Regions from separate parts of the Homo sapiens genome. Here region 1 is linked to region 2. Evidence: fine-mapped expression QTL. A gene starts in region 2. The other region holds a variant in brackets. All regions are shown on one strand. Distances are from middle to middle. Region 1 overlaps SLC30A4-AS1 (SLC30A4 antisense RNA 1). Region 2 holds the start of SLC30A4 (solute carrier family 30 member 4).

Evidence for each region. PIP is the estimated chance that this variant, and not a neighbour inherited with it, causes the effect. A credible set is the group of variants that fine-mapping cannot tell apart.
Region 1: its variant is the best candidate, but not a certain one, in a credible set for the expression of SLC30A4 in monocytes after Pam3CSK4 (Quach 2016, PIP 0.70).

Annotation. Positions count from the first base shown.
Region 1 is chr15:45,474,876-45,480,260 of GRCh38, reverse strand. It overlaps SLC30A4-AS1 (SLC30A4 antisense RNA 1), which reads right to left. Exons shown (of 4, transcript XR_007064611.1): 2 at 3,952-4,182; 3 at 3,709-3,859. SLC30A4 (solute carrier family 30 member 4) reads left to right here. Exons shown (of 8, transcript NM_013309.6): 8 at 1-655. Among named protein-coding and RNA genes, the nearest start is that of SLC30A4-AS1, 29 kb to the right of the region's middle. The variant ATG/G (reference allele first, on the strand shown) is at 2,565.
Region 2 is chr15:45,520,528-45,525,912 of GRCh38, reverse strand. It overlaps SLC30A4 (solute carrier family 30 member 4), which reads left to right and starts at 3,158. Exons shown (of 8, transcript NM_013309.6): 1 at 3,158-3,306; 2 at 3,445-3,949. The coding sequence starts at 3,559. It also overlaps the pseudogene HMGN2P46. RefSeq lists a silencer at 2,966-3,455.

The DNA of each region.
Region 1 (5,385 bases), 46 kb after region 2:
CTGCCAGTCACTGAATTCTGACTTGTAAAGGGTTTAACCTGCTGTTCCAATCATTGAGGACCAATTTGCTTTTTGATAAGATTGGAAAACATTTATGGAGACTTTCCCAGTTAAATCTATGACAGTGTCCACTTAAATAGTGCAATTTAGTATATTCTCAGATAACTGCAACACAAAATTGAAATGTGCCAGTATGTCATCTTTCTACCTGGAAGATACTGTATATTTGGAAAGTTTATGCTTCTCTCAATAAATACATGTTATTAAATAAGCCATATCACAGTTTAAGAAATTGTATATACTTTATCATATGCCCTTTCAGAAACCAGGTATTTTGCATATGATTGATTTTAGAAAGATTTTGAAGCTGGGGTTTGTCCATGTTAATTAAGATCAAAGTATATATATATATATATATATGTGCTGTATTTGCAACTTTCACATTGTAATTTCCTATACACTTATTAAAGTATTGTTTTGCCATGTGGTTTATTAAATAAAAATGTACAGTCTCTTAAATATCTGCTCTTTTTATTAAGTAATATTAGTAGGCCTAAAAACATTGTTCTTAAAAGAAAATCTTTTATAATTATAATGTCATTTTATAATGCCCTCTTATATGTTTAAGAAATAAAACTGAAAAAAATCTTCTGGATAGTATGGAAAGATTAATTAAAAGAACCTTTCTCTTTTGGTATCAGTCACATGCAGTGACGCTACAGTCCCATCAACAGTGGCAGAAAGGAAATAAAGAAGCCACTGTAAAATAGACTGGTGAGGACCACCAGGAAGTCTGAGAGTAAGAGCCTGCTGACTCTCCAATCGTGTGGACCAGTCTACACTATACCTCCCAGGCCAAATCTGGCCTGCAAGCCTGTTTTATTTGCCCCAAGAACTAAGAATGATTTTTACATCTATTAAATCACTGGGTGCAGTGGCTCACGCCTGTAATCCTAACATTTCAGGAGGCCAAGGCAGCTGGATTGCTTGAACCCAGGAGTTCAAGACCAGCCTTGGCAACATGGTGAAACCTCATCTCTACAAAAAATACAAAAATTAACTGGGCATAGTGGCACATGCCTGTGATCCCAGCTACTCAGGAGGCTGAGAGATAGGAGGATCACTTGAGCTCAGGAGGTCTAGGCTACACTGAGCCGTGATGGTGCCACTGCTCTCTAGCCTGAGTGACAGTGAGACCCTGTCCCCATCCCCCCCCAAAAAAAAACAGTAAATATTTCATGGCATGTGAAAATTATATGGACTTTAAGTGAATTTCTGTGTCTATAAAGCGTTACCGGAACACACCACACTCATTCAGTTACGTATTGTCTATGGCTGCTTCCATGCTACCGTGGAGAGTTGCGTAGTGACATAAAATATTTACTATCTGGCCCTTTATAGGAAACGTTTACTAACCCCTGGTGTAGAGTGTTTTAAGACTATAACAAGCCGGGTGCGGTGGCTCATGCCTGTAATCCCAGCACTTTGGGAGGCTGGAGTGGGCACTTGAGGTCAGGAGTTTGAGACCAGCCTGGCCAACATGGTGAAACCCCGTCTCTACTAAAAATACAAAAATTAGCTTGGCATGGTGGCAGGTGCCTATAGTCCCAGCTACTCGTAAGGCTGAAGTGGAAGAATTACTTGAACCCAGGAGGTGGAGGTTGCAGCGAGCCGAGCCGAGATCACACCACTGCACTCTAGCCTGGGCAACAGAGTGAGACTCCGTCTCAAAAAAAAAAAAAAACACTATTAACAGCATATATGGATGCAGTGAAGTCTCCTAGAACCTGCTTGCAAGTTTTTGTGACTGGTAAGTCTGAAGCCACCTGAGTCACCAAAGGTTCTTTCATACCTTTACCTTTTTTCTCATTTTAAACTTCCTTTGGGTTTGGGGCAGAATATAAGAAAAGAGTAGCAAGATTTCAAATATTATTCATATGCCGTACGCTGTCACATCACTAGCAAAGCATTTTTCTTACTAGAACACCATGATCACCAGAATCATTTAAGTATACTTTTCAACATAAAAGCTTATTCAGTTGATTTTTAGATTTTTCACTTGTTATAACAAAAAGTTAAGAAAATAAAAATATGTGTAGAGTACCTTATGTAATTTGTGCCAATTGGGAGCTCACAAATGATGTTCTTTAAGGTTTTTAAGTTTCCTAGCAAAAGACAACAATATTTAATAAATATTGTAATAAAATATAGTTGTAAATATACTAGTATAGACTGAGCCTGTAATTCCAGCACTTTGGGAGGCTGAGGCAGATGGATCACTTTGAGCTCAGGAGTTGAGCCCAGCCTGGGCAACAATGGTGAAACCCCATCTCTACAAAAAATAAAAAAATAAGCCAGGCATGGTGGCACGTCTGTGGTCCCAGCTACTCGGGAGGCTGAAGCTGGATAATTGCTTGATTCTGGAAGGCAGATGGTGCAGGAAGCCAAGACTGCACCACTGCACTCCAGTGACACTGCAACAGAGTGAGATCCTGTTTAAAAAAAAATACATATATATGTATTATATATATATTATATATATGTATTATATATATATTATATAT[ATG/G]TATTATATATATATTATATATATGTATTATATATATTATATATATGTATTATATATATTATATATGTATTTATATTATATATATGTATTATATATATTATATATATGTATTATATAATATATATGTATTATATATATTATATATGTATTATATATATTATATATATGTATTATATATACTAGTAAAGATTGAGATGTTACTTATTATTTGATTGTCTACCTAGCTATTCTATTTTGATGTGTCATTTTTTTTGATCCATGTCAGATGTTAAATACTAATTTGGGGTAACAGTCTTACAAGCTCTTGATTATGCTAAACTTTAGTATATTCATAAATAATATTTTTTGGATATATTTCGACTTCAACTGTGGTCCCATAATAATTGCTATAAGCTATGAAATAGACTAGGCACAAATAGAAAGTATGAAGCCTTATAACAAAATATAATCTCTACATGAGTCATGTGTTTAAGATAGGAGGTTTTAAAATCCAATGTTATCACCAAAAATAACATTTTCAAGCAGCATTCTGGTGTAACAGGCTCTCATGTAACTTTTACAGAGCACTACAAATTAAAGTTTGGCCCATGGGTCTTACCCTATAAACATGAAGAGGATACTGTGTGAGTTATCAAATTGCTTCCATGTCTCCTGGACTTAAATTTTTTTTTTCTGGTTTGATTTTCAAATTCCTGTTGTCTGTGTTTCACTTGCCAGTTTCTGCACATTGGTTTGTGGTTAGTTGGTGTTTGTTTGTTTGTTTTAACACTTTTGTCACTTCAACAAAAAGCTGATGCTATGGGAAAAATGTGTATGGATTGGTTTTTCTCCAAAATATACTGGGCTATTTCTTGGTAAGAGAGTAGGATTTTTTACAGTAGGAAAATTTTAGAGACCTCATGAAAGCAAGGCTAGCCCTGAAGCAAGACAGACCGTCTCTGCTCCCTTGACTCTCCTAGCATTTGAAGATTTGACCCCACATCTTTTCGAGAGGAAACCTGCTAACAGCTTAAATGGTTACTGCAGCATTTACCTTTGAACAGTGATCACAGTGAATGTTGGACTTCAGTCAGGGCATGAAGGACTGAAGTGAAGGTAAGAAATGTTTCCTGGACTTCCATTCATTAATCTATCATACTCACCTGTGAAGGCTATGGGGCAATTCCTTGTTTCAACACGTTCTTTTTCAGTTTACAACTTGACTGGAGTTTCAGTGTTAGCACAAGTCTATTCCATCCTCTTTTTGCTTCTTTATATAAGAATATTTTCCAAAGTCCAGGATATTTTTTAAACCTTGAAACAAAGTGTTATATAATTTAGTGTATTAGTCATTGACGTGTATTTGGTTTTAGAAGTGTTTCTGATCTAGGCGTGGTGGCTCATACCTGTAATCCCAGCACTTTAGGAGGCTCAGGAGGGAGGATCGCTTGAACTCAGAAGTTCAAGACCAGCCTGGGCAGCATGGTAAAACCCCATCCCTACAAAAAATTAGCCAGGCATGATGGTGTGCACCTGTAGTCCCAGCTACTTGGGAGATCCCTTGAACCCAGCAAGTCGAGGTTGCAGTGAGCTGAAATTCTGCTGCTGCACTCCAGCCTTGGTGACAGAGTGAGATCCTGTCTCAAAAAAAGAAAAAGAAATGTTTCTCATCTTTAAGATACCATGATATTGAAATTTTGACATCTCAGAAAGTTGGTTCAGGCTGAGTGCGGTGGCTCACACCTGTAATCTCAGCACTTTGAGAGGCCGAGGCAGGCGGATCACCTGAGGTCAGGAGTTTGAGACCAGCCTGGCCAACATGGCATGGCAAAACCCCGTCTGTATTAAAAATACAAAAAAATAATCTGGGCATGGTGGCATGCACCTGTAATCCCAGCTACTCAGGAGGCTGAGGCAGGACAATCGCTTGAACCCAGGCGGGTGGAGGTTGTAGTGAGCCGAGATCACACCACTACATTCCAGCCTGGGCGACAGGGTGACAGTGAGACTCTGTCTCAAAAAAAAAAAAAAAGGTTCAAGTGGTTGGAAATGTTTTTTTCTTTTTCTTTTTTTCTTTTTTTTTTTTTTTTTTTAGTTTTCTTTAGGCAAGGTGTCACTCTGTCACCTAGGCTGCAGTGGTGTGATCTTGGCTCACTACAGCCTCATCCTCCCAGGTTCAAGAGATTCTTGTGCCTCAGCCTCCTGAGTAGCTGGGATTATAGGCATGTACCATCATGCCCAACTAATTTTTGTATTTTTAGTAGAAATAGGGTTTCACCACATTGGCCAAGCCGGTCTTGAACTTCTGGGCTCAAGCAATCCACTCGTCTTGGCCTCCCAAAGTGCTTAGGATTACAAGCATAAGCCACCGCACCCGGTGGAAATGGTTTTTTCTGAAGTAGATTGAGACTATTCCAAATGTCATCCATTTTACAATTATTCAACCAAGGATTGACCTATGAAGACCATCTGCCTGCCACTGAACATGCTATGAAATAGAACACACAATAGCAGTGGGTTTTTTTTTTTTAAGTTAAACAGGAAATAAAACAATGTTATGTTTTTGGAGGGCTTCTTGGGCCATAGCCTCACTCCTGTAGATAGAAGATCACACTTGTCTCCCATTAGGAATGGCTTCAGAAATTGTGACCAGGAGGATTAAAGTCCATCCTCTTGGTAATGACATGCAAAGTCCTGATCTGGTCACTGCTTACCTAGTCACCCCGCAGTTCCAGCCTTTCCCACCACCACTAGCCTACCTCCCATGTGTCAGCCATACCAAACTATAGGCAGCTTTTGGTTAACCAGGGAAATAATTGCTAACACTTATTGATCCCTGA
Region 2 (5,385 bases):
GAGCTACTCGGCACATGCCACCACACCCAGCTAATTTTTGTATTTTTAGTAGAGACAGGGTTGTCTCTACTATGGTAGAGGTCCACCATGTTGACCAGGCTGGTGTCGAACTCCTGACCTCAGGTGATCCGCCTGCCTCAGGCTTCCAAAGTGTTGGGATTACAGGCGTGAGCCACCATGCCCTGCACTATGCCTTTTCTTACCCAGGTTGTGAATGCAAATGAAAAGTTCTTTTTTATTGTTTGGGTTTGTTTGTTTGTTTGTATTAAACTTTTATCACTTGACTCTGGGAAATGGGAAGGTTCTTGAAGGAAATTAGAAATACCCAGACCAGCCTGGGCAACATAGTGAGACCCTGTCTCTATTTAAAAATAAATAAATTAAATAATTTTTTTAACAAAAAAGAAAAGTTTGAAGCTAGCAGAGGTCGGTTCATGAGATTTAAGGAAAAAAGCAATCTCCATAACATAAAAGTGCAAGAAGCAGCAGCAAATGCTGATGGAGAAACTGCAACAAGTTGTCCACAAGGTGTAGCTAAGATCATTAAAGGTGACTACAATAAACAACAGATTTTCAATACAGGGGAAACAGCCTTCTATTGGAAGATTCCACCTAGGGCTTTCATAGTTAGACAGAAGTTGATGCCTGGCTTCAAAGCTTCAAAGGACAATCTTACTCTCTTGTTAGAGGCTAATGCAGCCCGTAGCTTTAAGTTAAGGCCAATGCTCATTTACCATTCCGAAAATTCTAGGGCCCGTAGGAATTATTCTAAATCTACTCTACCTGTGCTCTATAAATGGAACAAAACCTGGGTGACTGGCCGGGCGCGGTGGCTCATGCCTGTAATCCCAGCATTTTGGAAGGTCGACCCAGGTGGATCACCTGAGGTCGGGAGTTCGAGACTAGTCTGGCCAACATGGTGAAACCCCATCTCTACTAAAGATACGAAATTAGCCAGGCGTGGTGGCACATGCCTGTAATCCCAGCTACTTGGGAGGCTGAGGGAGGAGAATAGTTTGAAATCGGGAGGCAGAGGTTACGGTGAGCCGATATCGCGCCATTGCACTCCAGCCTGGGCAACAAGAGTGAAACACCATCTAAAAATAAAAATAAATGAATAAAAAAGAAGAAATACCTTTCATAAGGCTATAGCTGCCATTGATTCCTCTGATGGACCTAGGTAAAGTAAATTGAAAAACTTCTGGAGAGGATTCAGCATTCCAGATGCCATTAAGAACATTCGTGATTCATGGGAGGTCAAAATATCAATATTAACAGGATTTTGGAAGAAGTGGATTCTAACCCTAATGGATGATTTTGAGGGATTCAAGACTTCAATGGAGGAAGTAACTGTAGATGTGGTGGAAATAGCAAGAGAACTAGAAGTGGAACCTGAAGATGTGACTGAATTGCTGCAATCTCATAAAATTTGAACAGATGAGGAGTTGCTTCTTATAGATAAGCAGAGAGAGTGGTTTCTTGAGATAGAATCTACTCCTTGTGAAGATGCTGTGAACACTGTTGAAATGGCAACAAAGGATTTGAATATTCCATAAACTTAGTTGATAAAGCAGAGGCAGGGTTTGAGAAAACTGGATTGACTCCAATTTTGAAAGGTCCACTGTGGGTAAAATATTATCAACCAGCATCACACGCCATCAAGAACTCTTTCATGAAAACAAGTCAATCAATATAGCAAATGTCATTGTTGTCTTATTTTAAGGAATTGCCACAGCCACCCCAACCTTCAGCAGCCACCATCCAGATCAGTCAGCAGCCATTAACAAGGAGCAAAGACCCTCCAACTAGCAAAGAATATGACTTGCTAAAGGCCTAGATGATTGATAGCTTTTTTTTTTTTTGAGACCGAGTTTTGCTCTTCTTGCCCAGGCTGGAGTGTAATGGCGTGATCTCGGCTCACCACAACCTTCGCCACCCGGGTTCAAGCGATTCTCCTGCCTCAGCCTCCCTAGTAGCTGGGATTACAGGCATGCGCCACCATGCCCAGCTAATTTTGTATTTTTAGTAGAGACAGGGTTTCTCCATTTTGGTCAGGCTGGTCTTGAACTCCCCATCTCAGGTGATCCGCCCGCCTCGGCTTCCCAAAGGGCCGGTATTACAGGCGTGAGCCACCACGCCCAGCTGATAGCATTTTTTTAGCAGTCATGTATTTTATTTACTTGTTTATTTTTAGAGACAAGGTCTCACTCTGTCGCCAGGCAGGGGTGCGGAGGCACAATCATAGCTCACTGTAATCTCGAACCTCTGGGCTCATGCGACCCTCCTTCCTCAGAGCAATTAACAAATGTATATATACTTTTTCCTTCCTCTCTCCCAATATTTTAAATTAAGGTATGCACATTGTTTTAGACATAACGCTATTACACGCTTAATAGACTACATTATAAACATGATTGTATTTGCACTGGGACATGAAACATTTGTGAGACCTCACTTTGTCATATTGCGGTGGTCTGGAACCAAATTCGCAGTATCTCCAAGGTATGCCTGTACTAGATTTTCTATGCTTGAGTTTAGTCCATATCGTAAATACCTTGGAGGCAAAAGGAACACGGCAGAGAGCACAAAGAGGACAATACATATTTGCTGAAAAACAGTAGGACACAGAACTGCTGACGACGACAGCCTTGCCCTCTCCAGTTGACTGCAGCAAATGTTGCCAATTTGCCAGAGACAAGCAATTCGAGGAGAGAAAAGCTGCTTGCCTTTTCAGTTAGCAAGAAAAGTGCTGGGTTTGTCTTCTGCCGAGCACCCGCAACCCAGATCCCGACCCGAGATTCCTGAGACACACTTTCGGTGGAGGGAACTCCTAGCAGCAACGCCCAGCCCCCGGCGTGACCCTCCGACCGCACTTGCCTCCCAGCCTGGGAAGGTGGAAGAGGCCGCCCAAAGTCCCCTCAGTTGGCCAGTGAGTGACCCCTGGGCGGAGGCGGCGCAGTGGCCCCCAATCCAGCCTCGGGGCGAGAGGCGGGGCGCGCCGCGCGCCCCCGCCCATCGCGGGCGCCCCAGCCCTGCGCGCCAGGCCTGCGTGTCCTCGCGCCGACCCCTCCCTCGCGCGCCTCGCCCGGCGCACGCGCGTGGCCTCGCGCAGGGCGGGGAGAGGCGGTGGCTGTGGGCGTCCGGCCCCGAACCTGTCAGACCTGGGGAGCCGGCCTCCAGCAGCGGGCGCGGCGGGCGCGAGCACGACCCCACTCTCCTGCGGCCGCGGGTGGAGCAGCGCGAGCCCGCCTCGCTGAGCCGGCCGGGGGCGGGGAGATGAGTTGCGGCCCCGCGGCAGCGCCCCAGGTATTAAATAGATGTGCCGCCCCCTCGCGGAGCCCCGGCGGAGCGTCGGGGTCGGCCCTGCGACCCGCCGCCAGCGGCTTCGGAACTTGAGGACAGGGTTGGGCGCCTTTAATTTATAACGTGTTTCGTTTTCCACAGGATGGGGAGGGACGCGCGGCACTGCCCTCGAGAACTGGCGCTCCGGTGAAGTAGGCGCCGCCGGCCGTCCGCCTCCCCCAAGCCGTTCCGCACCGCGGCCGCTCAGCCTCTGCCATGGCCGGCTCTGGCGCGTGGAAGCGCCTCAAATCTATGCTAAGGAAGGATGATGCGCCGCTGTTTTTAAATGACACCAGCGCCTTTGACTTCTCGGATGAGGCGGGGGACGAGGGGCTTTCTCGGTTCAACAAACTTCGAGTTGTGGTGGCCGATGACGGTTCCGAAGCCCCGGAAAGGCCTGTTAACGGGGCGCACCCGACCCTCCAGGCCGACGATGATTCCTTACTGGACCAAGACTTACCTTTGACCAACAGTCAGCTGAGTTTGAAGGTGGACTCCTGTGACAACTGCAGCAAACAGAGAGAGATACTGAAGCAGAGAAAGGTGAAAGCCAGGTTGACCATTGCTGCCGTTCTGTACTTGCTTTTCATGATTGGAGAACTTGTAGGTGAGTTGTGTTGCCAACTCACTTTCCGTTTACCTTTCCTCGAGAGTCTTTGTCAAGCTGTAGTTACACAGGCTTTGAGGTTTAACCCATCTTTTCAGGAAGTTTGTATTTATCAAGACACTGATCTCATGTGAAAAGGCCACACGGTTCCAAAGTGCAGCTCAATCTAAGTACAATATAAACTCCCCGAGATAACTTTGACTTTCTCTTCTAGTTGTTCAACCACTGTCATCTACCGTAAAGTTAAGGACGTTATCTTCATTGTATGTCATGTAACTTCCTCTTTTTACAAAGGTCTGGTAAAATACCAGGTTAATTTTCGCAACGTTTAAAATAGTAAATGATCGTAAATAACTTAAGATCATAGAATTTTACAGTATGAAGGGACCTTACTGAACACCTGCTCCACCTCCTTTTTTTTTTTACATGTAAGGATTTCCAGGGCACAAACCAGTGGAATAAGTCGTGAGGGCCACTTAGGGAGTTAATGGAAGAGCCACATCTACAGTCCCAGCATTTTTTTCCTCTACATTTGACCTAAGTGGTTTCTTTTATACGATTTCCTTTTGTATTTATAGCCAAGAGATTTGCAAAATTAATTACCAACTAACATGAAATTTTTGCCTCGTAAGAAGGGCCTGAAATGAACCAGAGGACTCCGCCAAAGTTCTATGAGCCTGGTTTTCTTGTTCATTTTTTAATTATACGAACAATCCGTTCTCAATATAAGATACATTCTTAGTTTAGAGGTTATTTTCAATCACGTCAGTATAACTACTAACTTCTCAGTGACAGTTTACAAAGTGACATAAAAGCAGGGAGATGATTCTTACATGTCATCTCTTAAATGATGAACCATGACAAAAACAGGTGGCAGTCCAGATTTAAGATGTTTGACTGGAGGGTTCTATGTGGGAAAAATTATATACATTTCCTACCTTCTTTCATAACACTCCTCCCCAGGGCTCGCTTCAGCCATGCTGGTCTTCTTTTTCCTCTTACAACTCACAAAGCTCTTTTTGCCTCTAAGGCGTTCAAAGTGGCTGGTCCTTCTATCTCAGTGGCTTTCAAACATTTTTTGACCTCACTGTAGTAAGAAATACACTTCACATTGTGACTCATTTAGGCATGCATGCATACATATGTATGAGAATATACACAGGTCACATGTGTATAAATATATGTATAACTGAAACAAAAGTTTTCCTTCATGTGATGTATCCTAATAGTTTCTTCAATTGTGGTCCCAGCTCACTAAATGGATTTCGTGTGTCCACTGCAGTAGGTCAGGGCCTTAGCTTGAAAAACACTGCTTTACATAGACTGCCTTTCCCAAATCTTTTCTTGGCCAGTTTCTTGTCATTCGTGTCTTATTTAAAAAGACACCCCGGCCGGGTGCAGTGGCTCACGCCTTTAATCCCAGCACTTTGGGAGGC